Linked DNA regions of Homo sapiens: region 1 is linked to region 2. The links come from fine-mapping of genetic effects on plasma protein levels. A gene starts in region 2. The other region holds a variant in brackets. All regions are shown on one strand. Distances are from middle to middle.

Region 1 (15,942 bases), 36 kb before region 2:
TTTTTACTGCTGGTGTTTATTTTTTATTTTTGAGTTATTTCTAGCATTTCAGGATCCTAGTGGCCTTCCTGTCTGTGCAAGTCACAATACACGGCCAGCACTGGGCGTGCCCAGTGAGGTAAGACAATAAGAAACTGTCCATGGCATGGCCTTTAAAAAAAACTGTAATACTGTGTTGGAATCATTCCAAACATCACAATTGCGGTTTGTCACATCTTATAGATCTGAACCAAAATTATTCTTTTTTAAAAGATGTCATCACACATTTATTGGGGAGGTAAGGCAATAAATGGATCATTTAACACGAATATAATTTTGCACAGAACACTTGTCTGTGAAGGAACAGGAAACAATGTGTTTGTTGAAAAAAATCTACTTTGGGTCAAGCATTACTAATTAATATTGATTGCTTTTTTACTCTGCATATGAATCCTCATCATTGGTATTACAGGTCCATAATCCCTTATATGAAATCCTTCCGGCTAAATATGTGTCAGGATTCCGAAATCTTTGGGTTTTAGGCCTGGGGTGTCTTTCTTCGGTAAACAACATTAATCCTTCCTCAGTGAAATGTATGCATATCTATATAGGATAGAATAAGTAAAGGCTGTAAGTAGCCCCACATCAGTGCTAGTCAGGTTTTCACATAATGGATTCGGGTCACATCAGGTTTTTCTGCAAAGTAAGAAAAAAATGGTTTCTAGTGGTTTAGGGGTTTCAGAATTGTGAATAAGGGATAGTGAGCCTGTACTACCCTAGTTTTATGAAGGGAAACTTGGCATCTAGAACGGTTACTACAAGTTAAAAATACAGAATTTAAACCTAGACTTGTCTTGATCCAACGATTGTTGTTGCTCTATTGAACCTAAATTAAGGATTATGAAGTTGTGTTCCTTCTGTAAGAGTAATTAAAGAATTGGGTTCTTCAAGGGACACTAAAAATAAAAGCTGTAAAAGATTATCCATTATTGAATCAATATTTTTAATACTTTTGAACAATTTTCCAGTGTGATCACCAATCACAAAATCACAGGAAAGGTTATTTTTCCATGGTTTAGAAGTTAATTTTTATTCAATAAAAGGAAAGCTTCTCTGCTTTCTCCACTTATCTAATTTCAAATTAACTCAAGTGGCTGTCAAAGAGATTGCTTTGACTCTGAAAGTTTGATGGTAGATTAGATTTGAAGGACCCAGGAAGCTATTATTTTCATGGCAATCCTTGTGGCCTGTTAATTAATTATGATTTATGTTCATCTGTGTCCCCACCCTACAAAGACCTTTTTTTTAAAGCCTACTAGAGGGTATAGGCTATTAACAAGGTATTAACTGGATATCACGGACACAATGACAATGCAGTTTTGCCTGGGCAAAAAAAAAAAAAAAAAAAAAAAAAAAAGCTAGTATGCTATTTGACCAGAACTTTGACCAGGATTTTAAGAAAAAACATGATGTTTTATCCTGAATACTAGATGCTGCATGCTAAAACTTTAGAGCAAGTAATCCTTTCGAAGGCCAAATATAGTCCCCATGTGTTGCAATAAACCAGGATTTTCTACACTTACCACTCTGCCCTTAGGTGAACTTCCCATGATTATACCACAAACAAAGAAACAGAGTAATTCTCGTGGAATACTTGAAGCTGGAAATAATGAGTACAATTCATGCCATACATTTTAAGAAATGGGTTCTTAAAAATAACTAAAATTTTACTCCTACGCTGCTGTCCTCAGTGAGCAAAGAATCATCAGATCATCCACTTTAAGAAGATTTCACACTATAGTCAAATTAGTTAAATATTTGGCAAGCAAATTTCTATTGCATCTACAAATTTTATGTAATAACTATTTGTAGCCTAATAATTGTAAAAACAGCTTTTAACCTCCATACCTAGGTCTTCACTAACAAAGTTTGATGATTCAACAAATGAAGTTCTTAGGAATGTAACATTTGACCAATATTCAGAAAGGTGGAGTCATTATGCATTTTCAACGATGTTAAGTATATCATGCCCATTTTCCTGTATTTTTTTCCCATGGAAAGTTACAGTTGGAAACCATGCAAAGTAGCCTAAAATTAAATTTTCCTAAGTGAGGGAATTGCTACATAATTTTCTAAAAAGCAAACCAGTCAATAATTTAGATTCTACTTGTGATCTGCTTTGGAGTCATTTTTAATATGCTTATCATGTTGGCCTAGAAATATAAACACTATGGTATATTTAGCATGAATAATTCCATAATAGGTTTGAAATCGATTTAAAGGTGGTTTATTCTGGGACCCCTCTCCTAGGATTGCAGATGGCCATCTTCTCGCTGTGTCCTCAGACGGCCTTTTCTCTGTGCGTGCATTGCTGTTGTCTTTTCCTCTTCTTATAAGGACATCTGTCATATTGGATTAGGGCCCCACCCTTATGACCCAAATTTCAATACTTACTGTTGCAGTTAGAGGGATAGGACAGTAGGTAATTGTGTGTAAACCCAAAGAGAGCAAGATGTATATGTGGTGCATGCTATTGTAACTAATATTCTACTGGCTCTTTATTAACTACCATACACTCAATTATTTACACGTTAATTGTCTCTTTAAGGGCCCTATCTCAAAATATAGTCATGTTGGGTGTTAAGGCTTCAACATATGAATTCTGGTGGACATGATTCTGTTCACAACAAGAACTTATACAAATACAGTGGCAATAGAAATAAAGAGAAGTAAAATTTGAGAGACATTTTTGAGAGAGAATGATTAACTGAATGTAGAAAGTGGAAAGAATGAGAAAGGATTTAAAAAGCCTTCACTGGGCATTTGGTATATGCCAGACATTTTGCTATGTGCTGAAGATTGACAGGTGAACAAAGAAGACACAACCTCTATGTTCAAAGAACAGCTGCTACTTTAAAATAGCAAAATGAAACTCTATATTCTAGAATGACCTAAGTTACTTAACTTCATACCTGAGCCTTAAAAATGTAAAAATTCAAATATTTACCTTTGAAAGAATGTAGGCATTGGGATTTGTCAGCCATGATTTTGAGTCATGAGTTTGCAGTTCATCAGTTTTGTGACTTTGAAGGGTAAATATTTCTGAACCTCAGTTTCTTCATCTGCAACATATGACGAATAATATCCATTTTATATGGTTGATGTCAGAATAAAATGAGTTGATGTGTATAAGGTGTATAGCACATTACCACATCCACAATAGACATTCAATAAATATTGTTAGTAAAAACACATGTAGCTTCCATAAACATCATGAAGTTTTTTAGTTTGTTTGTTTTTCCTGATGGAAGAGGAAAGAGAGACATGTAAGGGGTGAGGATGTGACAGATAGGAATAAAAGCTACAGAAAAGGTGCATAGAAAACCAAAAGAAGCTTTGCTTTCTTCATAGATAAGTTCTTTCCTTCTCCTAGCTTTATTTGTGGCCCAGAGACCCAAATCATAATTAAATACAGCAACCTGAATCATAATTTAGCACAGGGGTTCCCAACATTTTTTGGTATGAAAATCTTTCATTAACATTAAAAAAGAATCCAGACACTATAGTAGTAGTAACTTTATTTTTAATCATTGCCTAAGAAATATATAATAAAAATACACTCTAAATCCAATAAAATTTAAAAGTTAATTTGTATTTTATCATATTGAAAAATACAAAGATATTATTGTAATATTTATTTAGTTTAAAATATATATCTGTAGATATGAATCTCTTTAAAGTAAGTCTATAGAACCCTGAATGTCTATGGCCCATAAATTTAGACCCATTGGCCATTTGTAGGTCAGAAATGAAGACATTAGTAGATTTCTGCTATAAACCTGGTAAACTTAATCAAGTCGTTCATTTAGCCTCTTAGAGCCTCCAATGAAATATCATTGAGATTACCTGTTCTACTTTTATGATGAAGTGTTAAGTGTAAATGGAATAAGTGTAAAACATTCTCACAACGAAAGTTCTGGTTCTCTTTGGATTCCATGTTGGCTGCAATTGAAGCTATGGAGAGGGAAAATACTGTGAAATGTGAAATTGTTACAGTAGTGGTGTTAGGAGTCGTTGTGGTATTAGTAGTCAGAGTATTTCCTGGGGAAATGACCAAGTTATTTTTCTGTACCCTAGTTCTTTGTAGAACCTAAAACTCTATATTTATGTGTTATCTCCAAAATTCAGATATTCTTTGGCTATGAAATGGAAAAAATTCTTAAAGTAGTAAAACTTTTCTATCATGGCTCATGACACTTTTTATTAGTGGAAATTGCCTAATAGTGTTGGCTGGACGAAGTCCAAAACAGACTTTCTTCTCTTCTTATAGGAAAATAACAAAAAACATAAATGCTTTCTGAAGGAAGATTACATGATTAGTGAGGGGGCACTGATGATACTGCTCTTTTGGTAGCATCAGGAAAGCAATTGAAGTTTCAGCGATGGCTAAAGTTGGAAGGGAATGGGCAACATAGACAAATTTAGAGTATGGTTTAGAATCAATAGGGGATGTATTTAAAATGGGAGTTCCACTTGCATTTACAAATAAGTTAATGACCAATAAGCAGTTCATATACTTTCAAGGAGTTGAAGAATTATGAAGACGAGAGATTCAAGAGATTTAGAATTTGATGAGAAACTGCTTTTTTTTTTTTTAAGTCTTGTCACTTGTCTACTGTTAGGCATTTTACCCTAAGTGAATAAGTGAAATAATTTATGTTTTTGATAAAACTATTCTCCAAGTACAAAAATCAATGCTCAGTAAGGCACAGTCCTACAAAACTTTTTGATAATAACGACTATGTTTCAAAAGTTAGTGGCTTTTCAAATGCAAGTATCTAAAGAAGAGATTTGAAACTGTCCACAGAAAGAGCCATTAGATTAAAAGGCTATAAATTATTAGACACCTTATTACCAGAAGAAAAAGAGGAAGAGACAGCCTGGCTGATCTTAAAGAAAGATAACAAGACCAGAAAAGGGTTCCCAGCAGGACAGCAAAGTTGGTGTGAGGAGTGGGAGATGCAATCCTAAAGCTACAAGGGAAGGAGAAAGGGGCAAGATCGGACAGATGCAAAAATTCTGTGTCTTTCCTGGCTCTTTCCAAAGCTCCAGTTGACACATCCAAGCAAATTTTATACCTAATTTGCCTTCTTTTGAGCTTGATATTATAGTTTTTCTTGCACCATGTTACCAAATGTTATCTTTTCAATCAATCTGGAGTGCTTTATTTTCTAAAGATTTGCTCAGTATTTTCCTCAGAGACACATTTCCAGACAGCCTGTTTCTCATTAGCTGGAATAAACAGGAGTGTGTTTACAGCATAGCGCCAGACTTAAAAGAATATCCTTTCCTAGGGAAGCTAGTCAGGGAATTAGCAGTGCTGGACTTAAAGCGGTGAATTGGAGTGTCCAGCTGTGACATAAGACAGAGTATTGGTTCATTCACACAGACTTTAAAAAGCAAACTGTATAAATCTTTTTGACATAAAGATAGTTTTCTTTTGAACACATTTTTAAGCATATGAAACTCTAACACATTAAAAACCCATTTATGCCAAAGAAATATCATATATAGTGATTAAAAAATGTTTAACTTCTGTTCAGCAAATATTGACTACCTACTGTGGGCAACACAGAGACTATAAAGATGTATAAGACATTAAGTAGCTCACAATCTAGTGAGTAATCCAACTTACTGCAAAAATAAAACCCATAGAAGTTGCTCACTAATACTATATGTTTACAAAAACATTGGAGTTAAGTCCATTACAAATGCATGAGAATTTATCAGTGGAGGTCAGTAACCTCATCAAAGGAAGTAATAGAGAATGTAGTCGTCCCTCAGTATCCCTGGGGGATTGGTTTCAGGACCCCTCACAGGTGCTAAAACCCATGGATGCTTAAGTCCCCATAAAAGGATGTAGTATTTGCATAGAAACTATGCACATCTTCCCATATACTTTAAATTATCTCTAGATTACTTATAATACCTAATATGATGTAAACACTATGTAAATAGTTATACTCCATTGTTTAGGGAATTGTTAGTAAAAAAAAGTCTATACTATATATGTTTAGTACAGATGCAACCATCCATTTTTAAAACATATTTTCAAACTACAGTTGGTTGGATCCACAGATGTGGAACCCACAGATATGGAGGGCTGACAATAAATGTGCTGATAAAAGAGAATATTTGCACATATTTTTAGCATTATGAAACAGATATCAAATATCTTAGCTAATGAAATTTATCAATAGCAAGGAAAAATCCACTCACGCTTATGTAATCACATTGTATTAAATTTGACCTATCTTCCTGTCCTGGAGGTAATTGTACTCTGATGGTGATCCCAGTCTACCAAGACAATAAAGTGCAATAAGAGTGAGAAATTCAGACTATTAATAGACACTGCAGATAATTTACACATAAATAATTGGGAACGTGGTATTTAATAAAGAGACAGTAGAATGTTATTTACAATAGCATCTATCTGTCTCTCTATCATCTATCTCTATCTATCTATCTATCTATCTATCTATCTATCTATCTATCTATCTATCTTTCTATCTATCAATCATGTATCTATATATCTTGTTCTCTCTGAAAAGGGTTCCCAGCAGGACAGCAAAATTGGCGTGAGGAGTGGGGAGAGGCAATC[T/C]TACAGCTACAGGGGAAGGAGAAAGGCGGAAAGACTGGAAAGCTGCAAAAAAAATCTCAATGTCTTTCCTGGCTCTTTCCAAAGCTCAAGTTAATACATCCAAGCAAATTTTATACCTAATTTGCCTTCTTTTGACCACACAGAAATATTTCCTGTAATATTCCTATAACAGCAGTTTAAAGTATAGAATATTTGAAATAAATATACAACACAGTTCCTTCTTATAAAAAAACAGATAATTTTTAAAAGAATATATTTATATTACAGACATGTTTAATATTGGACAAAAGTCTTGCCCCCAGATGTTTGCAGCAATATTCTGGTACCCCTCTGCTTCAGGTATTAAAAGATAATATTGAATTAGTTCCAAAAGAGAACATTTATTTATCCAAAAGAGAATTATTTATTTCCAAAAGAGCTCATTAGTTGCTTGAAACTACATGCTGTTTCTACATAGTCGTATGACATTTAACATTATTATTCTTATCACTACATTATAAATTAGATTTTAAATCCAGCAGCTATTTCTGTCTTCATGATAGAATTTTTAAAGGGATTTATATTTGCATTACTTTTTTCTTGGTTGGAATCAGTAAAAAAAGTAAGTGCAAGTTCAAAATTTTATAAATTATTACCTGTTTCTTGATGTCTTGATACGTTTATTTGTGGGATCTAAAATACACTTTTTTCGGAAGAGACTACATGTCGGATAATAAAGCAAAATGAAACAAAACAAAACCCTGCTATGGCTGTTTGGTGCAAGGAGAAAATGTTTTAATAGTACATACTCGGTGACTGGAATATTTTACACTACTTATGATTATCACTTTTTCTAAATATTGAGAAAAGTGTATTAGGAATCTATATAATAGTGACTGTTGTGGCTCAAAATAGAAAATAAATATTCTACAGGATATTTTGGCATATGAGATGGTGGAAAGAGAATAGAAACAGTGAGAAAGAAAAGATGAACAGAGTATTTCATTCCATTAGAATGGAGCTAAAGCAGAGTAGTCTCAGTTCACGTGAGCTGTGATGCTCTGGAAGTCATCCAGAAGAAACTGCTTGGAGTATCACGGTAAGCACTGAGGACGGTATCTACTGGCTAAAGCTCAAGCGGACATCTATGTGGAATGTAACTTTTGAATAGAACCACTAGAGGATGACGAGGTCTCACCGACATACCAAAGGTGTTTTGGAGAAGGCACAGGCACACTCATTTTTGAATGTTGTCAAGTGGAGTGCTTTGATCAGAAAATGGAAAAAAAAAATCTTTCACCAGAAGAAAGAAACCTTGTGGAAATTACAGTACATTAATAATAGCTAGTCTGGCAACCTTCACAAGGAAAAGCTAAGTTCATCCAAACGTAATAGTTTATTTTCCCCGCACTTAACCAACAATAAGGTCATTATTTTCCACTAATTTATTCAGAATTATTCAAATTTAGTTTATCTTCACAATATACCTTATACCGATTAAAAGCAAAACATGGAACTCTCACTTTCTTGATTTTTTAGCAGTGTGATGTTTAAAAAAGCAGTTTGTTTCTCAAAAGTTATAATATTCCTGGGAAAATGTAAAAGAAGCTGGTGAGGGCCTTGGACTGAGAAGGTAGATGGATGTCCTGGAGCAAAGATATTTCTTCTGAGCAAGATCTTTTTAAAAAACTGGATATAAAATTCATATAACTGAAATTCACCATTTTAACCATTTTACAGTGTATAATTTCAGTGGCTTACATAATACTCAAAATATAGCACTATCTAATGCCAGATAATTTCCATCACCCCAAAAAGAAGGCACTTATCCATCAAGCAGTCATTCCCCATTCCTCCTCCCCTCACCCCATGAGTAATACTTTCTGCCTCTTTGAATTTACCTATTTTCTGGATTTGCCTATTCCAGATATTTCATATAAACAAAATCATACAATATGTGACCTTTTGCATCTGGTTTCTTTCACTTAGCACAAGTGAATGTTTTTAAGGATCATCCATGTGGTAGCATGTGTCAGTACTTTATTCCTTCTTATGCTTAAATAATAACCCATTGCATATATATATATATATATATATATATATATATATATATATATACACACACACACCACACTTTTTTTTTTTTTTTTTTGAGACCGAGTCTCCTTCTGTTGCCCAGGCTGGAGTGCAGTGGCGCAATCTCGACTCACTGCAAGCTCTGCCTCCCGGGTTCACGCCATTCTCCTGCCTCAGCCTCCAGAGTAGCTGGGACTACAGGTGCCCACCACCACGCCCGGCTAATTTTTTGTATTTTTAGTAGAGACGGGGTTTCACCGTGTTAGCCAGGATGGTCTTGATCTCCTGACCTCGTGATCTGCCCGCCTCGGCCTCCCAAAGTGCTGGGAGTACAGGCGTGAGCCACTGTGCCCGGCCATGCAGGACTTCTTAAGAGAATTATCTGTTCAAGTCCTTTGCTCATTTAAAGAAATTGAGTCATTTGGCCATTCGTTGTTGAGTTGTAGGAGTTCTTTTTATATTCTAGATATTAGACCTTTAGCAGATATATAATTTGCAAATATTTTCTCCCATTCTAAAGGTAGTCATTTCACTTTCTTAATAATGTCATTTGTTTGACAAAAGTTTTTAATGTTTTATGAAGTCAATGTATTTATTATTTTCTTTTGTTGCATGGCTTTTGGTGTCATATTTATGAAACCATGGCCTAATCCAAGGTCACAAAAATTTACACCTATGTTTCCGTCTAAGAATTGTATAGCTTTAATTCCTACATAAGAATTAAAACGTATTATTTGACACTTATAGGGTTAATTTTTGTAAAATGGTGTGAGGTAGGCATCCAAATTCATTCTTTCACATATGGCTAAACAATTGTATATACATTGCATATATTATTGGATTTATTTTTATAAATTTTTGATTGACAAATCATAATTGTGTACATTCATGGGGTACAATGTGATGTTTTAATATATGTATACAGTATGGTAGGATTAAGTCAAACTAGTTAACATGCCCATCACTTCACTTACTTATCATTTTTTATGGTGAGACATTTGAAATTTACTCTCTAAATTATTTTGAAATATATAATACATTATTATTGACTATAGCCACCCTACAGTGGAATAGATCTAGATCTTAAAATTGATTCCTCTTATCAATCTAAAACTTTGAACCCTTTGATCAACAACTCCCTATTCTCTTTATCCCTACCCTAACCCCAGCCTCTGGTAACTATTCTTCTACTCTCCAATTCCATAACTTTGTTAGATCAGATGATCTTTGTCTTTCTGTTTCTGGCTTATTTTATTTAGCATAATGTCCTCTAGATTCATCCATGTTGTTGCAAATGACAGAATTTCTCCCTTTTTAGAGGCTGAATACTACTCCATTGTGTATATTTACCACATTTTCTTTATCCATTCATCCATTAATGGACACTTACATTGTTCCTGTATCTTGGCTATTGTGAATGAGGCTGCAATAAACACGAGAGAACGGACATCCTGTTGATATATTGATTTCAGCTCCTTTGGATAGATACCCAGAAGCGGGATTACTGGGTCATAGAGTAGTTCTATTTTTTGCTTTTTGAGGAACCTCCATACCATTTTCCATAAAAGGTACTAATTTACAATTTCACCAAAAATGTATGAGCTCTCTTCTTCCCATTCTCTGTATCACTTGTTTTATTTCCTCTTTTTAATAAAAGCCATTCCAATGGGTCTGAGGTAATATCTCATTGTGGTTTTATTTTGTATTTCCCTAATAATTACTGATGCTGAGCATTTTTCCATGTACCTATTGACCATTTGTGTGTCTTCTTTTGAGAAGTGTCTGTTCAGGTTCTTTGCCCATTTTTTAAATCAGGTTATATATTTTCTTGCTATTGAGTTGCTTGAATTCCTTACATATTTTGAATATTAACCCATTATAAGATGCATGATTTGCCAGTATTTACTCTCATGCTGTGGATTTTCTCTTCACTTTGTTATTTGTTTTTCTTGATGTGCAGCAGCCTTTAGTTTGATGTAATCCCATTTGCCTATTTTTGCTTTTGGTGACTGTCCTTTTAGGGTCATATCTTTAAAAGAATTATTGCCTAGAAGAATGTCACGAAGCTTTTCTCCTGTGTTTTCTTCTAGTAATTGTACGGTTTCAGATAAGACCTGAATATTTAAGTTTTTCATCATTTTGAGTTGATTTAGTGGAATACTTAGCCAGATCTTAGGCAAAAGAAAGAAATAAATGGCATTTTAACAGGAAAGGAAGAAATGAAATTGTCTCTATTTTTTTGGTAACATGATATTATATATAAAAACCCTAAAGACTCTATCATAAAAATTTTAGACCTGATAATAAATTCGTAAGGTTGCAGGATACAAAATCAACATACAAAAATGGTAGCATTTCTAAATGCTAATAATGGGCTATCTGAAAAGAAAATTAAGAGAAAAATCCCATTTACAATAAATACTTAGATGTAAACTTAACCAAGGGGGCAAAATATCTGTTAACTATAAAATGCTGATGAAAGAAATGGAAGAAAATACAAATAAATGAAAAGATATCAAATGCTCATGGATTGGAAGAATTAATATTGAAAAAAGTCCCTACTACCGAAAGTGATATGCAAAATTCAATGCAATCCCTATCAAAATTGCAATGTTATTTCTTACAAAAATGGGAAAATATCCTTAAATTCATATGGATCTACAAAGGGAACTACAAAAAACCCCAAACAGTCAATACAGCCTTGAGCAAAAAGAATAAAGCTGGAGGCATCACTCTCCCTGATTTTATCTAGTTCAAACAAATACCAATCTAGTTCAAATTTTGACTTCAATCTAGTTTAGATTAATACCAATTTAATTTCAATTTTATAAGAGCTTTGCTCCTATACCACTCAATCTCCCTACTTTATGTTGATATTATCACAAATTACGTATTAATATGCAGTGTGCCTTCAATATAGATTTACAACCATTGTTTTACACAGTTGTCTTTTAAGTTAGATAGGAAAAAAAGTTACTGTATAGCATTCTTTTATTTCAGCCTGAAGGACTCCCTTTAGCATTTTTGCAGAGCAAGAAAGTTACTAGCAATGAATGCTGTCATTTTTACATTTATCTGAAAATATCTTGATTTCCCCCTTTATTTTTGAAGGGTAATTTTACCCAATATAGAATTATTTTTTCTTTCAGCACTTGGAATATGTCATCTCACTGCCTTCTGGCTTCCATAGATTTTGATGCAAAATCAGAAGTTATTTTCATATTAAGCATCCCTTGTAGGTGACAAACTGCTTGTTGGTGACAAACTGCTTTTCTCTTTCTATTTTCAAAATCAAGTTGCTGGGTAAGTCAGGGAGTCAGAGGTATGTATGCATGCTGCATGGACGTTTGGGAAAGTCTCTTCAAATGGAGAAGTCACTACCATCTTCTGATGCAATAAATAGAATGCTAGCTATTCTATTTATAGCTTCACTGTAAATAGCTGTTCTATATAGATGCTGGAGCTAGAACAGCTATATTGGTATGTACAGTGAAGGGCAATGAAAGGTAGAACAGGAGCAGGGGAAGAATATGTTCTCTGTCCGTCATGGACTATCTACCTCTGCACATTTTCTGTGTGAGAAAAGAAACATGTATATATTTAAGCTACTGGTTGTGGTTGGTATTGTCACTGCTTTTTTTTTTTTTTTTTTTTTTTTTTTTTACAGAGTCTCGCTCTGTCGCCCAGGCTGGAGTGCCCTGGCACAATCTTGGCTCACTCAACCTCTGCCTCCAAGGTTCAATCAGTTCTCCTGCCTCAGCCTCCTGAGTAGCTAGGATTATACAAGTGCCCACCACCACATCTGGCTAATTTTTGCATTTTTAGTAGAGACAGGGTTTCACCATGTTGGCTAGGCTGGTCTCGAACTTCTGATCTCAAGTGACCCACCTGCCTTGGCCTCCCAAAATGCTGGGAGTACAGGCGTGAGCCACCGCACCCAGCCTTGCTGTATTTTTATTATCTGATATATGCAGAGAAATCTGATCCCAATAAAGGGGTAGGAATAGTGCTTATCTCATAGAAAGTTTTGTGATCATTTAACTGAGAGACAAGTGTGGAGCACTTAGAGTGACACCTACTGTGCGGTACTTTTCTGTAAGTATCAGCCATTCTATTATCTAGTTCTCTCCTTAGTTTCAGAGCCCAGGAGGAAGGAAGCAAGTTAGACCTCACTACTAAGAAACCTAGAGAAGAATGTAGGGGTCAGAGAGCATTATAGGCCATTATTAATAGAAATAGGACAAGAAAAAAACCATTAAAATATTGAACCCATTTCTTTAGAAACTCAGACACTTTTAGCTAGATAAGGCTGCATGATAAAGAATTTGGCTAATCTTTGTCCCCAGCTCCTGATAGATAGACTTTAAATTCTTGGAATTTCCTAAGAGATAGGAGTGTCTTTCTGAATCATAGTGAGCCCCTCAGATAACACTTGATAATTTATACTAACAAGATGACTCACAGTGGGCTCTTAGTTTAGGCTAATTAGATGAATTAGAATGGGATTACCAGAAGGATCAACTATGTAATTAGAGGGTTGGGCCTTTGAATTGGGTAATAACAGCTTAATCCCTGAGGGAGGTAGGGAGGCTAGAGATTGAGTAGCATGGCCAAAAATTCAATCAATCACATCTATGTAATGAAATCCCAATAAAATCCATGGACACTGAAGCTCAGGAGAACCCCTGGTTGTCAGCTCTTCAGTATTGCCGCACAAGTGTGTGTTGAATAGAATGCCATCTAGGACTCCACAAAGACAGGACAATGGAAGCTTCAGGTAAGGCCCCTGTCAGAGCTCACCCTGTGAGTCTCTCCCTTTGGATGATTCTAATTTCCTTTTGGTGTAATAAAAGCATAATCATAAATACAGCACTTTCCTAAGTTTGGTGAGTTATTTTAGTGAATCAAATGTGAAGAGATTGTGGCAACCTCCAAATTTGTAGCCGGTTGCTCAGTAGTGAAGGTGGCCTGGGGAACCTCAAACTTGCAGCTGGCATCTGGAGTGTGGGCAGTCTCATAGAGGAGTGTGTCCTTAACTTGAGAGGTCTGGCTCAACCCCAGGTGGTTGGTGTAAGAGGGTCAGGGCAGGGGCAAAATAAACTGACTTGTTTCTCTCTTCATTCCTTCTATGACATCAGCTTTGAAAGGCAGTGGTTTAGTTCTGGGCTTGAATTCTTCCTATATTCAGCCCAAACTGCCTAGATGTGCACATACCATATTTACCTTTGCATCTATTAGGCATTATGGAGTATCACTGAACTGCAGAAAATCAGTTCTCAAAAAGGGAACTGTCATGAATATCAAGAATATTGAATTTTAAAACTAAGGAAGTACCATAGCACTAGCTTAATTTGACTCGGGATTATATTACTTCTGTGGCAGACAAAAACCACAAACTCCTTAGTTTTAGGCAAACATCTAAAACAGCAATGTGAACACTCTGCTGAAAGGTCTTAACTTCAGAATAAAAATTGTGCCAGCTTTGAAACAATTTTATCTTCTTGCCAGCATAATTAATAACCCTCAATTTAAGAGCAAAACACCAAATTACTTTTAAACCAAATTTTTCTTTAGGACTACATTTTTTATAAATAAAATTTTTATAAAGAACCTAAATTCTTATAGAGAACTCTACTTGTTTGTGGAGTATAGTCCTGACTTGCTAAGTAAGCTAATTTGTTTTCTTTTCTTTCTTTTTTTTTTTTTTTTGAGACGGAGTCTCACTCTGTCGCCCAGGCTAGAGTGCAGTGGCGCGATCTCAGCCCACTGCAACCTCCGCCTCTGGGGTTCAAGCAATTCTCTGCCTCAGCCTCCCAAGTAGCTGGAATTACAGTCACACACCACCACGTCCGGCTAATTTTTTTGTATTTTTAGTGGAGACGGGGTTACACCATCTTGGCCAGGTTGGTCTCAAACTTCTGACCTTGTGATCTACCCGCCTTGGCCTCCCAAAGTGCTGGGATTACAGATGTGAGCCACCACGCCCGGCTGAGCTAAATTACTTTCATGGATGATTATTTCAATTAGTTATATTTTCTATTTCTATGTATCCATTTTTCTCCTATAAAAAAACGAGAGCTTTCTGTGACCCTCAGAAAACCATTTTTTTTGTACAGAACTTATGCAAATAATTATTAAGCTGATTGCCAAAATTAGTGAGTTTTCCAGCATATAAACATTTATATACTCAATTCCAGACATCCTTCTCATCAAGCACTCTTATTTTATATACAAGTATTCCCAAACATCATTAACACAAAATTCATTGCTCTAGCAAAGTTTTGGCAAAAGTAAAATAGTGACTTCTTGACAAGTTCCTAGAACTGAGGTGTCATTATTGATGTGAGCAGGCAAGGGCCAAGTCTATACTCCAGGGAATTTAAGGATTCTTCTCAAATGTTACCCCCTACTATGGGTTTCTGCCAGGAAAACCTGATAGTGAGAGTGGTGTCTGATTCGCAGGCTGGGAGGTCCTTTAAGTCTAAATAGGCAAGACAGGAGTGAGGAGCTAGGTTGTGAAGTCTGAGTTGCTGGGGTACATCAGGCCAAAGCAGATTCAGGGATCCCAACATGGTGGTGACTACACAGCTATGACGGGGTTCCACTGGCTCCATTACATCCGGCACAGAGGACTGGTCAGTGGTAGTTTTTCAGTCACAGCTCCAAAACTATCTTATAAACTTACACTCTTCTGCATCCTTGGTTTCAGATGGTGCCACTTTGCATCTTATCCTGATCCCACATTTCTCACTGATTGTTTCATGTGTCCCAAATTGCTGACCCATTTTTTACCCCACACTCACAGATTTGGGTCAACTCACTCTAAACACTATTCTGATCGTAACCACACATCAACTCCGTCAGAATTAGGGCTAAAATCGATTCGGTAAAATTCAAATGTACCACTTTGGTAGTTTCCAGACATCTTGATGTTGAATGTTTTATATTTATCTAACCCTTTCAAACCACTTACTATGTGCTAGGCACCATATTAAGTACTTTACAAATATTAATTCATAACAGCCCACGATTTAGTTTTATGAGAATTATTCCTAATTTACAGATGAAACAAGTGAAGTATAAATAGGTTAAGTAACATGTCCAATATCTGCCGCATGGCAAGTGGTAGAATTGAAACTCAAACCCAGGCAACTGAAACCCAGAATTCAGAATTGCTTTGCTCCGCTATATCATCACCCGGGACTTTGATGGATTTGGCTCTCCCAAGGTAAGACACTGTACTTAAT
Region 2 (15,942 bases):
TTTTAGGATGCCAATTGTACTCAAATTGACCTCTATCAAGTTTTGATCATTATCAAAATCCCAGCAGACTTTTTTTGGTAGAAACTTATAAGCTGGTTATGAAATTAACATAGAAATACATATTATACATATGTTTGGCTACACTGGTCAAAATATTTTTGGCAAAAATTAACAAATTGGATGACTAACATTAGACAACTTCATGACTGATTTTAAAGCTTAAGTAATCAAGACAATGTGGTGTTGGGCTAAAGACAGACAAACAGATCAATGGAACAAAATAGATATCCAGAATAAACCCATACATATATGGACAATGAATGTTTGACACAGGTCCAAATGCAGTGGGAAAAGAACAGTCTTTACAATATATTTTGCTGGAACAACTGAATCTCCATATGCAATTAGGAAAGGATGGATAGACAGAAGGAATATAAGAAAAGTTAACACATGAGCTTCTCCATAACTCAGTGTCCTTGTTGATATATATATAGAGATTATAGTAATTTCTATATAATAATATTTTGGGGAGTACTAAATATATGAGAATTTGCAACATCCCTAAAAATATAGCCAGACACAGAGTAGGCACAATATGGCTATAAGCTATTATTATAAAGGTAAAAATGTCAATATCTGTATGCAAGAAATTCTAGAGAACTATAACAAGAGAGATACTTTGTATAGATTATTTGACTAATAATTTCTTCGAAATTACACACACATACACACACACACACACACACACTGATTAAAAGGGCCGCAACTGTGCTAAAGAAGTTATGAATAATTCCCTATGGACAAACAATGGTAAAATTCAATATAATAAAAAACAAAGAAAATGTTCTAAAATTTTCCAACAAGAATGGCTAACCATCTAACAAGGAAAAGTATCATGTTTATATTCATAAAGGGGAAGGAGAGGGCAGTGCCTAATCCCCTGAGTTTAGGCTCAGTCAAAAACTAGCTCTGAAACATTAAACAAGATACTTAACTTCTTCATAGCTCAGTTTTCTTGTTGACATAATATAGATTATAATAATTTCTATATCATAAGATTTGGGGGAGTAACAAATACATTAGAATTTGTAGCACCCCTAAAAATACAGTCAGATACATAAGGGACATAAGATGGCTATAAACTATTATTATGCTTAGATTTCTTGGTACAATATTTGATGAGGGAATACAATAGAATGACATTTTCAAGTTGCTTAAAAAAGAAAGTCAATGTTCAAATCTGATACCATTTGAATAGTCACTTAAATACAAGGGTAAAACAACAGAAAAAATGTCGTAAATATAAGGAAGAAATAAAGATTAGTATATCAGACATGATATTAATAACACACAATAACACATCTACAATTATTAATGCTTTATCCAAAGTTTATTGAGAGGTTACTAGATACTAAATATTATTTTAAGTTCCTTACACATATTAACTAATTTAGTATTCACATAAACCCTATGTGACAAAAAGAGGTTCAACAAAGGTCACCCAGGGTATATATGATAGACAACCAAAAGAGTTACTTCCATAGTAAGCCTTCATTGTAAGGTTTGTAAATCTGAGTCAGATCTTAAATACAAACCATCTGTTCCTTGTTCCCTTTCTGAGGCTTTTCTCCATGAAAGTTTGTTTGCAGATGTTATCTTTGAGAAAGGATCCTTGAGTATGATTTCAGTGGAGGCAGAAACCTTTCTTTCCAGGGAGGTTTTGATTTTGGTTACCTGCTCTGTTGTGTTCTCTTTCACATAAAAATTCAGTTAGTGGTTGAGTCCAGTTATGAACGAAATCAAGTATTTCATAACAAACGGTTGGTACTAGCAGGTTGGCACTCATAGGGAAAAGTGTGCTTGATTGTTGGTTTTGGCCACATCATGCATACATTTCTCTTGATATCTGAGTTGTCATATCAAGGAATGACTAAAGATACAGAAAGCAATATTCAAGTTAGAGAACATGAATTTTTACTGGGTAAGAAATAACAACCATTGGTTAACTACCCAGACTTTTGAGCCTTCAATGATGAAAGAAAATATAGAAGGAAAAAAACACCAGCCATTAAAATCTAGTTTTGTAAGTCTTGTAAAACTGTAAATTTTGTTAAGTCTTTTGTAAGTCTGCATATCTTTTTTTTTCTTTTTCTTTTTTTTTTTTTTTGAGACAAGAGTCTCGCTCTGCCGCCCAGGCTGGAGCTCAGTGGTGCATTCTCGGCTCACTGCAAGCTCCACCTCACGCCATTCTCCTGCCTCAGCCTCCCAAATAGCTGGGACTACAGGCGCCCGCCACCACACCCAGCTAACTTTTTGTATTTTTAGTAGAGACGGGGTTTCACTGTTGTGTTAGCCAGGATGGTCTCAATCTCCTGACCTCGTGATACACCTGCCTCGGCCTCCCAAAGTGCTGGGATTAACGGGCCAGGCACAGTGGCTCACGCCTGTAATCCCAGCACTTTGGGAGGCCGAGGCGGGTGTATCACCTGAAGTCGGGAGTTCGAGACTAGTCTGACCAACATGGAGAAACCCCATCTCTACTAAAAAATACAAAATTAGGCGGGCATGGTGGCGCATGCCTGTAATCCCAGCTACTCAGAAGGCTGAGGCAGGAGAATCACTTGAACCCAGGAGGCGGAGGTTGCGGTGAGCCAAGATCGCACCACTGCACTCCAGCCTGGGCAACAAGAGCAAAACTCCGTCTCAAAAAAAAAAAAAAAAAAAAGAAAGAAAGAAAATGCAGTTCGTATTTATTGGTGATAAGACTGAATATATTGCGTGAGTCCCTTATAATGCTTTGTCATGTCTGCCCAAAGTATGGTAGAACCCCAAATTGGGTAAGAAATATCCAAACTTCAAAGACTTTTGTAAGTCTTTGTAAGTCTTGAGTGGAAGCTGTCCACATCCTGCAGTTGCCATCTTGAAACAAAGCTTCGTGGTAGAAGCTGTCTCTATTCCAAGGGCCACTGGCTTCTGAAAAATACTTTAGAATCCCTAATTTTCAATCTTCTAATGGAATGTCAGTCCTTTTGTCAGTGGGCCAAACTTTGTGTCTTTTTAGCTGGGAGACATAAATCCAAGCATCTATACCCTCAAGTTTAACTGCTGTTCTAGTCAAATTTATCTGCTATTTCTTTCCAATGTGGTTTCTAGGAATTTTTTCTATGCTGTCTTTTCCAGATGACAAAGTCTTTGTTTTTCAGGTCGTGCCAAGATTCCTTGGGAGAATATGAAGAAAATGCAAGCCATACTTGTTGGTGATAAGAGTGAGTATATTGTGTGAGTCCCTTGTGGTGCTTTGCCATGTCTGCCCAAAGTATGGTAGAGCCCTAAATTGGGTGAGAAATATCCAAACTTCAAAGGGCGAGCTGTTACTGTCAGAATCTACCTTTCTAACAGACAAAAGTTTCCTCTCACTTTGGAAATTAGCAAACATTGACTAGGATATTCAAAATCCATACCAAGGAGGTGACTGTATGAAACCCATTTGTAAGGGTTCAAAGGTACCCTGACACTTGAGTTCTTGTCCAGCCTCCACCTTTACAGTTTAACTAGATTACGCTGGTGCAGAAGAGACCAGCAACTGGAGACATTCTCAGCAACCTCCATAAAATTACCCTACCAATGTTGACAAAGTACAGTGATCAATTTGTCCTTCTTGAGGTGGAAAATTTAATGAAAAATGTTTGCAAGGTTCCACCTGAGGTCCACTGGTGACAACAAACTGCCATTCTGAAAGTGACAGATTATGAAGAACATTCCTCGGTAAGGTCTGAAGATGACAGGCACAGTATGCAACAGGGAGAATTTGTGGATTATTAGAGATAGCCACCACTGGAGTTGTTTAACTCTGAGAAAGAGGTCATGTGACAGTGGCAAGTCTTTTGGTTGATATGATAGTGCCAGGATCAAACATTCACAAGACCACCTTTTAAGACACAGAAATTCTCCTTGAGCATTTAAGGGCAAATAGGAAACTGAGTCCTTGACCCTCATTTGGAAGAGCGTCACTGATTTCCTACTTCCTTTTTTTCCCCTTTAGTTTCATTCCGTGAGGGCTTGGAGGTCTAGCAACAGGATGATCTTCCTTTCCAGTTTTGCTTGTATGTTAAATTTCCCTATTTCTGACATTAGGCCACTCAGAGAAAGTGAAGCAAGAGCTGGCACTGCACATGTTCCAGGACCTACATCTGAATGTTTTCTATAGGTGTGATGGAGCATCCCCCTGAGGTTTCCAATGCTGTCATTTTTGTTTTGGTGCATAAACTCCAAAAGTTTTGTCTAAAATTTATAGCTTTTTTAAGTTCCTCTGGTTTTACTCTGAAATGTGGAGTCTCTTAAATCATACTCAAGGTATTCACACTGCCTTTTCCAACACATTTTGTTGCATTTGAGGTTGATAATAACCTATAAATCAGTTGATAGAGATCTGGGAACCCTGAATTATGTGTTCCTAGAACTATTGCAAATTTCTCTGTAAATTTATACCTACCTTGCATAGACTTTGGAAGTTTTTGAAAATGACGTTTACCTTAGACCCAACCCAGGGCTTAAAATCTGCCATAATGAGCTTATACTGATTTGGTCAACTTTAAGAGCCAATTGAGCATTTAGTGTTTCTAGCTGGCCAGAAGAAAAGGGACATCAGAAAGAGTGTCAGGGAAGGGGAACTTGGAGGGCAACTGGGTGAGAGAACAGGAATAGTAAAGGTAAAAGCTTTTTGAGTCAAGTGGTGATTTGGGCAGATCTAAAAAAGAGCTTTTCACATTTTTTCATTTGCGCCTTCCGTGGAACAATTACTGAAGCAATTGTGGAATCTGTATTTTTATTGTAAGACTTCTTATATCAATCAGAACATACATATCATTGAATGTTTGGAATTTCACTCTCTTTCCATAAGGCACCTCTCAAATGAACAGTTTTGTTCTTACAAAAGGTTTCTCAAATGGCCTCTGAAATTCTAAATTAATGTTGGTAAAATTAAGCTGTTTAGACAGAGATACATAGTATCAGTTATAGTGCAAAATACATGTAGGAGGCAGGAATATGGCTTGGAGGGGATATGAACTTGGGTTTAATCTGAGACAAAGGCAAAATGATCTGGCAATGGGTGGTCAAATGAGTTGTTTGTGTACCTCATGCCCTTGGCTCCCCAAACTAAAGGTTAGGTAATCTCCAGTGGCAAATCTGATAAATGTGCAGTTTGGGAAGACGGAAAGTTTGACCAAGAGATCTCATTCAAAATCAGTGTCTCACAGACAAAACAAGACTTCAAATCGTTGTATAAGCTTTTGATAAAGTTTATGGCAATATCTGTCTAGTCAATACCAATCCTTCTGGGCATCTAGTCCCAAGGGATGGCTCAGTGAATTGACTTAACAGGACCCGTGCTTATTCTCTTTCTTATGAACTTCCTTTTTTTGACTCCCATGAGAAAATTATGAAGGCAGCAGGGATAAAAAGCAATAGTAATAAGGCAGATATCTATTGAGGATAAATTTGTTCAAGTCTGATCAAATAATCAAAGGGTTCTTGAAAGGAGATCTTTTAGCATTTGGTAGCTTGATAAAAAGAAACTGGGACTGAAATCTAACAGAAGACATAACCCTTCATTGCAGTCAGAGTGATTCCCCCCACCAAGCCAGGAAGCTCAAGAGGCCTCAGTGATTTGCACTATTTTTGAATTTAGGATCTTTGCTTGAGCTACTAGGGAGAAGGATTTCAATGGGACCTCCAAGTTGTTGTACACCCGAAAATATCAGTAGAAAAGTTTTCAATAAACAAAAGTTCCATTTAGCCGAACCTACAGCAGTAAGGGAGAGTGCCACCTGGACAGGGTCTTAGGGTGTCTTGGGTAAGTCAGAAGCAGAATAGTTGTAGAGCTTTGGAGTCTGGACACGAGTAGTTTAAGGTGGGTCTTTCAAAGTGGGGAATTGAGTAAGATTGGGCAACGTTCATGATCTAGTAGTTTAGGATCAGTTAACATCTGTAAGTGAGAGTTTGGGTAAGAAAACTGTCATTAATAAGCAGGCTGTTTACCAGAGTCAGAATATTATTATCTTCGATATATTGTTTTGCCAGCATTTCTTGAAGCAAACACTGAATTTAAATACTGGATTGCAGTCTTATCTTTTCCAGGCTAATGTTTCCTAGAAGAAACAACTAAGTCATGTGTACATAACTGGTTCATAGTTTTACCTAAGTCATGTTCACAGCTGATCTCAATTCTTAAAGCCTATGATTTTAATATCAGAAAAAGTAGAACTTCAAATAAAAATATCAGAAGTTAAAAAAATGACATTGTATACTACCAAGAAGAAAATTAGATCAAAATGATATAGTATCCCATTATGTTAAAAAATAACAGGAAGAACTACTGTCAGAAACAGAAAAACATGTCAACAATTATAACTGGAGATTTTAACGTCATTCCCAAACAAGATTTGAACATTATAATAAGCTCAAAATTAATACCCAACAAAAATAAAGCACACACAGAATTAGTTGCAATGATCAGCCATGTCCAGGACTACAAAGAAAGCCTGAATGCATTTCTAAAAGCAACATCATTTATAGCAAAAATTAAATATAATAAAATTAGAAATTGATAAAAATCATATATCCCTAAACTAAGAAAACACAAATAATTTGGGGGTTAAAAATATAAACAAATTAAGATATATTTGCAACTGTTTGCCAAAGGAAGCACTACGTATCAAAATTGAGAAATACAAGTAAAGCAGAATTTAGACAAAACTTGTATTTTATTGATCGACTGATTGATTGCAGAGATGGGGTCTTGCTGTGTTGCCCAGGCTGGTCTCAAAGTAACTTCAAGTGATCCTCCTTCCTCAGCCTCCCCAAATGCTGGGATTACAGATGTGAGCCACCACACATGGCCCGAAACTTGTATTTTTAAACTAAAAAGAAGAAAAATGAACTAAGCATTCAGCTAAAAAAGCTTGAAATGAAGCAACAAAGTAAAACTAACAAAGCAAGAAGGTAGGGAATAACAAATGAGAAATAAAGTAGATGGTCAGAATGGATATTAGAGAATGTACAATGGATATATTATCATCATTATTTTGCCATCCAAAACTATCATCTCCCATATCTACTTGGGAGGCTGAGGCAGGAGAATAGCTTGAACCCAGGGGTTGCAGTGAGCTGACATGGTGCCACTGTACTCTAACTGCACTCCAGCATGGGAGACAGAGCGAGACTCCATCTCAAACAAACAAACACACACACACACACACACACACACACACACACAGACACAAAACACAAAGAACAAAACCTATCATCAAAGAAAACAAAAACTCAATATGTAAAAGAGGTGTTATTCTGGCTGGGGCCCTGCTACCTCTCTTTCTCCACTGACTGAGCAATGCTTTTTGAATAACCAGATTTAGAAGACCTGTTGTAAAATAGGTCTTGCATGAAGCTAGTGATGAACTCACAAACCAGTGAAAAGGACTTTCTCAACCTTTAAAATCTGCTAGTGGCAAAAAGTGTTTCCAGGGGGTAAGGAAGAAAAAAAACCAAAAAGTCCTGAGCAACTATTCGTTTTTACCTTAAGACATTCTGTGTGTGTGTGTGTGTGTGTGTGTGTGTGTGTGTGTGTGTGTGTGTGTGTGTGTGTGTGTTTTAAGTAGAGACGGGGTTTCACCAACGTTTGAAAATATTTATCATGGTCTCCCTAAGATGGACGGTGTTAGCTAGGATGGTCTCGATCTCCTGACCTCATGATCCACCCGCCTCGGCCTCCCAAAGTGCTGGGATTACAGGCGTGAGCCACCGTGCCCGACCAACCTTAAGACAAACAACTACTGCATGATTGTTTTTGGAGACCTTTTTTTTATTCAAATAAACTTTTTGCCAGCATTTTCTGACTCAAAGTATAGCAGCAGGAAGATAACACTTTTGTGAGAAAAAAGTTTGAATACAGCTTACTGCTGTATTTAAATGAAACAGTAGTTAATATGATATTAATATATTTTGGATATATTTTGAGTTTGTTGATTTTCCAGTCTTCACCCGCTGCTAGGCCTGTGGGTGTTGGAAATGCCTGTGGTTCTCAATTTTGTTTGCCTATTAGAATCCTGATGTCCAAGCCTTACTCCAGTTAGACCAGTTAAGCCAGAAAGGCAGAAGGTGTACTCAAGCATCTGTTTTTTCAAAATCTCCTTTTGTGATGCCAAGTGCAATCAAAGTTTAGAATCATTGTAATAGCAAATGGTTGAATGGAAACTCCACCTTCTATTCAAATCCTACCCCAGTCTGCCCTTAGCTGTTCCCTTTTCACAGATCTATCAATGTCTGAAGATAACTATGGCAGGCTGATCAAATATGCATAGAGCAGGAAGACAGCAAGAGAGTGATACACTGACCATGTTCCAAATCACAAAACATCTCAACAGGCTAGATCATGGACCGAGTCTGATGGGATGGAATTTCATAAAGATACATAAAAAAGCATCTTGGATACAGTAAACTTAACTCCACAAATACAGGGGAATTTAGACGTGACTAAGTAGCAGTACATATGAAAAATTATTGAGGAATTTTGTTGACTTTAAGGGTAGTGTGAGTCAACACTGTGATTTGGCTGCCAGAAAATAAACTCAATCCAAGGCTGTATCAACAAAGGCATACTGTCCATTCTGCATGCTCATTACAGCACTAAGTACCGAGCCATGTTCTCAACCGCATACTTCATGAACATGGAAAGCTAACAGTATGGTTAAGGGGGGAAACTGGAACTGTCATCTTGGGGAATAAAAGGGATATTTAGCCAGGAGTAAAGTTAGCTTAGGGAGACCATGATAAATATTTTCAAAATATTTGAAGGACTCAGTTGTGGAAGTGAGATTAGATTTATTGTGTAAAACTCCAGGAGTCAAAAGCAATAGAGAGATAGAAGGAAATGCTTTTCAGCAGTGTTGCTCATCAATAAAGGGAGTGAACAGCCACACAGAATGGAAGGTTCCCTGTCCTTTGAGATATTTAAGCCTTCAAGTAAATTATGGGTGAGGAGTTTCAAATCTAGAGTTGAACCAGATAAGAAAGTCTCTTCTTCCGGTAAGATATTATGGACCTATAACATCTGTGTACTTAAAAGTAGATTGGGAGTGAAAGGCAGACTTTTGATGTTCTGTACACTGTTGAAACCCCTTAGCGTGGTCCTCTGTAACCTGCTCACCCTGCCCCAAGGAGGCAGCTAGCCAATGCCACCAGCCCAACGGAAACCCCAGTGCTTTTCCAATGGGGAAATGCAGTCACTTTTCTTTGGATGCTACACATCCTTTCTGGAATATGTCTCACACACATCTCTCTTTATCACCCCCTTTTTCAAGTAAACCAACTTCTTGCAGAAGCTGACAATGTGTCTCTTTACTCTCCACGAAGATTCTGGCCCTTCTCTTCACCTGTCAGAAGTTTAGGATTCCAAAGGGATCATTAGCATCCATCCCAACAGCCTGCACTGCATCCTGAGAACTGCGGTTCTTGGATCATCAGGCAACTTTCAACTACACAGACCAAGGGAGAGAGGGGACCCCTCCGAGGTCCCATAGGGTTCTCTGACATAGTGATGACCTTTTCTTGGAACTTTTACAACCCCCAGGACATTTCCAAACTTTGAGCAGGGCTCTGGGGGCCAGGCGTGCGGGAGGGAGGACAAGAACTCGGGAGTGGCCGAGGATAAAGCGGGGGCTCCCTCCACCCCACGGTGCCCAGTTTCTCCCCGCTGCACGTGGTCCAGGGTGGTCGCATCACCTCTAAAGCCGGTCCCGCCAACCGCCAGCCCCGGGACTGAACTTGCCCCTCCGGCCGCCCGCTCCCCGCAGGGGACAGGGGCGGGGAGGGAGAGATCCAGAGGGGGGCCGGGGGAGGTGGGGCCGCCGGGGAGGAGGCGAGGGAAACGGGGAGCTCCAGGGAGACGGCTTCCGAGGGAGAGTGAGAGGGGAGGGCAGCCCGGGCTCGGCACGCTCCCTCCCTCGGCCGCTTTCTCTCACATAAGCGCAGGCAGAGGGCGCGTCAGTCATGCCCTGCCCCTGCGCCCGCCGCCGCCGCCGCCGCCGCTCAGCCCGGCGCGCTCTGGAGGATCCTGCGCCGCGGCGCTCCCGGGCCCCGCCGCCGCCAGCCGCCCCGCCGCCCTCCTCCCGCCCCCGGCACCGCCGCCAGCGCCCCCGCCGCAGCGCCCGCGGCCCGGCTCCTCTCACTTCGGGGAAGGGGAGGGAGGAGGGGGACGAGGGCTCTGGCGGGTTTGGAGGGGCTGAACATCGCGGGGTGTTCTGGTGTCCCCCGCCCCGCCTCTCCAAAAAGCTACACCGACGCGGACCGCGGCGGCGTCCTCCCTCGCCCTCGCTTCACCTCGCGGGCTCCGAATGCGGGGAGCTCGGATGTCCGGTTTCCTGTGAGGCTTTTACCTGACACCCGCCGCCTTTCCCCGGCACTGGCTGGGAGGGCGCCCTGCAAAGTTGGGAACGCGGAGCCCCGGACCCGCTCCCGCCGCCTCCGGCTCGCCCAGGGGGGGTCGCCGGGAGGAGCCCGGGGGAGAGGGACCAGGAGGGGCCCGCGGCCTCGCAGGGGCGCCCGCGCCCCCACCCCTGCCCCCGCCAGCGGACCGGTCCCCCACCCCCGGTCCTTCCACCATGCACTTGCTGGGCTTCTTCTCTGTGGCGTGTTCTCTGCTCGCCGCTGCGCTGCTCCCGGGTCCTCGCGAGGCGCCCGCCGCCGCCGCCGCCTTCGAGTCCGGACTCGACCTCTCGGACGCGGAGCCCGACGCGGGCGAGGCCACGGTAGGTCTGCGTTAGGGTTTGCGGAGAACCCGAGAGTTTGCGTTAGGGTCTGCGGCGGACCCGAGAACCTGCGCGGGGGAAAGTGTGTGTGCTTTAAGCTTGTGTACGTGGGATCCAAAGTTACTGAGCTCAGTGCACGCTGCTTTGGAGAAAAATCTTCTTCTTTTTAAATAGAAAGTTGTTACTAGAGAGGCAAGCAAGTTACACGAGTGAAGGGCCCGGAGAGGTGCCCAGTGAGAGATCCCGAAATCTATTTCAGACTGGTTTCCTCTGGGGCAACCAAGGGGTCTTGAACCCTGCCCAGTCAGCGGGGCTCTGGAGAGTATGAGTTCATTTTGGTCGGGAAATGCTCGTTTCTTTCCCCAGCTGATTCATGGGACTCCAAACAGATTCTGGGACACTGGTGATCAGTCAACCCAGCCTTACTTTCCTGGAGTGTTCATAGTCTGCAGAGCACCAGGCGCTGTGAGCGACTTTAGAAAAAAAGTGTCAGGGACTTTAGTAACCAGGCTCCAGAGCTTTCAGAGTTCACTTGAAGTTGGTCAGACTTGAGATGTAACGGGAGATTAGAGTCAGTTAGATCACAATCAAGCAATGCAAGGCTTGTTTCAACTTTATAAGCTCTTCATTCCTAAAATCTGGTCATGAGATACTGCAAACTAAGTTTTTTTTTTTCTTGTTTGGGTTTTTTGTTTGTTTTGTTTTCTTTTAAATAAGAGGTGTTTAATCCTTTGCCTGAAAATGTTGCCAAAATACTTTTGAGGCATCCTGATTTTGAAAAAGGATTTGTGTGTGTTCCTACTTCTTACTGGCTCTTCCAAAAGAGTATATCTTTATCTAAAAAGTTCATACCTGCCATAACCATATAGAGTATGCTTAAGAGAGTTCCTAAAGAAGTTATATTCGACATTTCAGTTCAAACACTTGCAGTACCCCTTGCTGGAACTATACTGCGGTAGTTTATTTCAACTGGTGGCAAGTGGAGAGGTACCTGTGGTGTGTTACAGTCAACTTTAATTTGACTGTTGATTAACACATACACAATGTGTAGAAAATAGCCTTATATTTTGAAATATTTTATTTATATTTATATTTTGAAATACACTTAAAGATTGAGAAGACTAATTTTTGGAAATCAAACTACCTTTGCATTTAAATTTTGGGAAAACATTAAAATGTTGGAATGTGTAATAATTTAATATAGGGGTTAAAGGAATGCCTCTTGAGTAAAAACAATATACATGAAATAGAACAGACTGCATTCTGTGAATCACAAAAATAATTTTCAGTGCCTATACTTACATTGCCGTAACTATAGTGATGAAAATATCTTTCTGTTCTTAAATACCGCAGAAATGTAATAATCGGCTCAATAACGCTTCTGATAATTTGAGTCCTTGATTTTGCAGTACCTATTTGCTATTTCTGCAAAGTCAAAACTAGTAAAAGTATGATTTAGTAAGGCAACATCTCTGTATTGGTTACGGTCACTTACTTTGGTTTACAGTAAGAAAATGTGCAGTAGAGAGTAAAATGAGAAACATTCCCTGATAAGCCAATAGCCTGTATGAGAGTCACTCACTGCTGGGTGAGTCTAGAATTAATGTACCTTGAGTGTGTGTGTGTGTGTGTTTACGTGTGTTATGTATAGGTATGGGATTGGAGGATTAAAAAAGTTAACTTATTTTTAACTTTCAAAAGTGTCTTCGTTGGTGATGTAAAATTTGCCATTGGTGATATGGCAAATTTTACCATTGCTGTGAAAATCACTATGCATTTTTGTTTGCAAATGTCGCTTTTCATATTTAACCATTTTTATATTCTGTATGGTGAATATGGGTTAGTATTCTGCATGTGATGTGGGTTCCTTTCCTATGTGATGAAACATCATTTCCCATATGAAACATCATCTCTGAGTTCCATAGACCACAAAGCAGTATTTCATTGCTCCATTAAAGTGTCGTTCCCCAGTGGGTGAATAGAGCCTTGACAGGGCATGTGTCATTAATGCATTCAGTGAAACTGCTGTGTCCTTGCTATGAAACATGTCACACAACTGCCAAGAAACTGATATGAAGACTCTATGTCTCTCCCTAGTGGCCTGTACAAGCACCACATTTAGATTTAAGCACTAGAGAAGAACTGGGGAGAAATCAATTGTTAATTTTCTATAACTACATGAACCCCAAGAAAATATTTCAGAAGGTAAACAGAAGATGCTAAATATCTATAATCCCAATAGATGCAATGTTTTCATAACTTTCACCTAGGAACTTTTTTAATATTTAAAAAATCAAAAATAGCACACAAACTATGAACCAAGGTTAGCCATCCAGCCCTTCAGCCCACCCGTAAAGCCATGCAAAAGATTGTAGGTAAAAATCACAAATAGAATGAAGATCTCCTTATTCCTCGACTTATATTTGCATTTACTGGATTCCTATTTCTAGTTATTTGTGGTTGCATGACTTACTGAAAAGTCTTAAAATGTTTCTCTGAAGGATGTTAACACAAACAAGACAGTGTCAAAAAAGTAAGGCAGGCAAAAGTAAAATTAACTGGACATGATGGGAACAAAAGAGAATAGCAAGTCTGAAGCTGTTCTATTTACAATTTTTCTTATAGTATATGATTATGTTTGTCAACATCTACTCTTATAAGAGATTTCTGACATTCCTCTGAGTGATGCTACTTATATGAGGTTTTAGATATAGAAAGTTCAATTCATCTTTCATTTTGATTTCCACTCCATTATAGTCTTCTGAACTATGAATATCTGATTGATAGCTATTTATTCACAAGACAGTTATCAAAATTGCTTCATAGAAAGCAGTTAATTACTGATCTTAGTGGCATATGTCTAAGACCCGTAGATCTCTAATCCTGTCCTTTTCAGTTGAGTTGAGAAAGACGGAGGGTAGTGGATTTAGATTTCATTTTGGACTTCCAGTTCTGGTTCCGGTTCCTCTTGAGAGGAAGGTCCTGGCCTCCTAGTTATCTCCATGTGTCCAACCCAGAATGCTGTTTCTCAGCTCTTGCTGGGGTTTTCACCAACAGAGGAACTGGCGTGAGACTAATGAAGGTTTCCCGAATCCCTGGGACTGTGCTTGCCTGCTTGCCTTTGGCAGTCCTGGGGTTGTTATTGAGAGTAGGAGTTTATAATCATTATCTGTGATGTTCATAACGTGTGTTAAGCACTTCGCAAAGAGCTTTGCAAGTTAGTTTTGTTTTTCACTACACCTCCATAATATGGACATTATTTTATTTCATTAAGGATGATGAACCCAAGATCTGAATGACTTAACCAGGAAAAAGAATAGATGTTTTTTTCCTTTTTTTCTTTTAAAAAAAGTTTTATGGCATATACCAACAGTCCCCGACTTAGAATGGTTCTATTTAGGACTTTTGGACTTTACAATGGTGCAAAGTCGATAGACATTCAGTAGAAACCATACTTCAAGGTTTGAATTTTGATCTTTTCCTGGGCTAATAATATGCAGTAAAATACTTTCTCTGGATGCTGGACAATGGAAGTGAGCTGTGACCAGTCAGCCATGTGATCGTGAGAGTAAACAACAGGTACTCTACTGTATATTAAATATATTTTCAACTCAGGAGGAATTTGTCAGGATGTAGCCCCATCGTAAATCGAGAAGCATGTATGTTTTAGAGAAATGTGGTAATGGGTTTGGGCCTTTGGGCCTGTGATTCAGACTCCTTTCAGCCCCTCTGCTGGTCTCCTTTGGCACACTATAGCAGCGTGCAGGAAGGCAGAGAAAAGCACTGCGTGTGACTTTGCAGTTAGGGGCACCTTGTTGCATTTATTTAGGTCCTAATTCCCCACAACGGGACAAACGGAAATAAACCCAGACTTTCTTCCAGGCTTTACCACATGGTGTTCGTTTGACTAAAGATAAATTATAAATGACCTAATCCATGGTAATATTATAAGAACGACTGCTTAACTGGAGGCTTAACAAGATTTTCTGACAAACGGTTTTTCAAAGTTGTGCTCAAGTAACTTCAGTGAAAGATTGTGATTTTACCTCTGCCAAATGACCTTTCACAAATAAGTGGATTTGGAAAGAACAAATTTAAGTTGGCAGAAGCGTTATACTTCCTCTGACTTCTGAGCATATATTGTTTCACCTTTCACCAGTTACATTATTCCTTGTAGATGTGCATTTTATAAATACTATATGGGTCTACCTTTTGTTACAAACACATATTTGTATGTACAGATTTGTATAAATTGTGGATTAAGTTATCATTGATTTTTCTCATTAGAAAAAACAGATATAGCAGAGAACTTTAAACAAGGAGAGATGCTGATGAGTTTGAGTTATAGTGTAATTATAAAATTTACTATAAATATTTTAGGTTTGTGTAATTGTTTTTCTGAAACTTACTAGTGTAAATTTTTGGGGTGGCTTCTTTCCTCGGTTGATTAATTTTTTTTTTCAGAGTTTATGTTTAACCATGAGAAAGCAGAGACTGTTTTTATTTAATTTGCTTTATTGGGCATCCATCATGGAATTAATCAAATTGTACATTAAATGCTTTGTCAGTGGATTAGTACTGTTTCCTTATACTGCTCGCGCCCTAGTGGCTTTCAGGTGTTAGGAGTTATCCACGATAGTTTTTTTTCCAATTTTGAAATCCAAAAACTCATTTTCTTTTTCTTTCTTTCCTTTTTTTTTTTTTTTTTGAGACAGGGTCATGCTCTATTGCCCAGGCTGGAGTGCAGTGGCATGATGTTGGCTCACTGCAACCTCTGCCTCGTGGGTTCAAGCGATTCTCGTGCCTCAGCCTCCCAAGTAGCTGGAATTACAGGCATGTGCCACTAGAGCAGGCTAATTTTTGTATTTTTCATAGAGAGAGGGTTTTGTCTTGTAGGCGAAGCTGGTTTCAAACTCCTGACTTCAGGTGATCCACTTGATCTCCTAAAGTGCTGGGATTACAGGCATGAGCCACTGCGCCCGGCCCCAAAAGCTAATTTTCTTAAATTATTTGGTGCTATAATCCTGATCTGAACTGACATAAGGCTATTTATAGTCATTATTATCTAATTTAAATATTTCTAATCTTCACTGGGAAAATAGTAATGTATTTATTTACATGATGCTGCCATCAGTCC

Direction of the effects. Positions count from the first base shown, and alleles are read on the strand shown. Strength reflects both the effect of a copy and how common the allele is.
For the plasma level of the protein whose gene starts at base 10,048 in region 2, allele C in region 1 goes with a lower level than allele T (moderate association).

Evidence for each region. PIP is the chance, under the fine-mapping model, that this variant and not a neighbour inherited with it causes the effect. The UK Biobank Pharma Proteomics Project read protein levels with antibody pairs (Olink). The fine-mapping took linkage between variants from a reference panel, not from the people measured, so its PIPs are less certain.
Region 1: its variant is fine-mapped to the plasma level of the VEGFC protein (UK Biobank, PIP 0.95).

What each region holds. Positions count from the first base shown.
Region 1 is chr4:176,822,972-176,838,913 of GRCh38, reverse strand. No RefSeq gene overlaps it. Among named protein-coding and RNA genes, the nearest start is that of VEGFC, 38 kb to the right of the region's middle. The variant T/C (reference allele first, on the strand shown) is at 6,641.
Region 2 is chr4:176,787,028-176,802,969 of GRCh38, reverse strand. It overlaps VEGFC (vascular endothelial growth factor C), which reads left to right and starts at 10,048. Exons shown (of 7, transcript NM_005429.5): 1 at 10,048-10,805. The coding sequence starts at 10,659.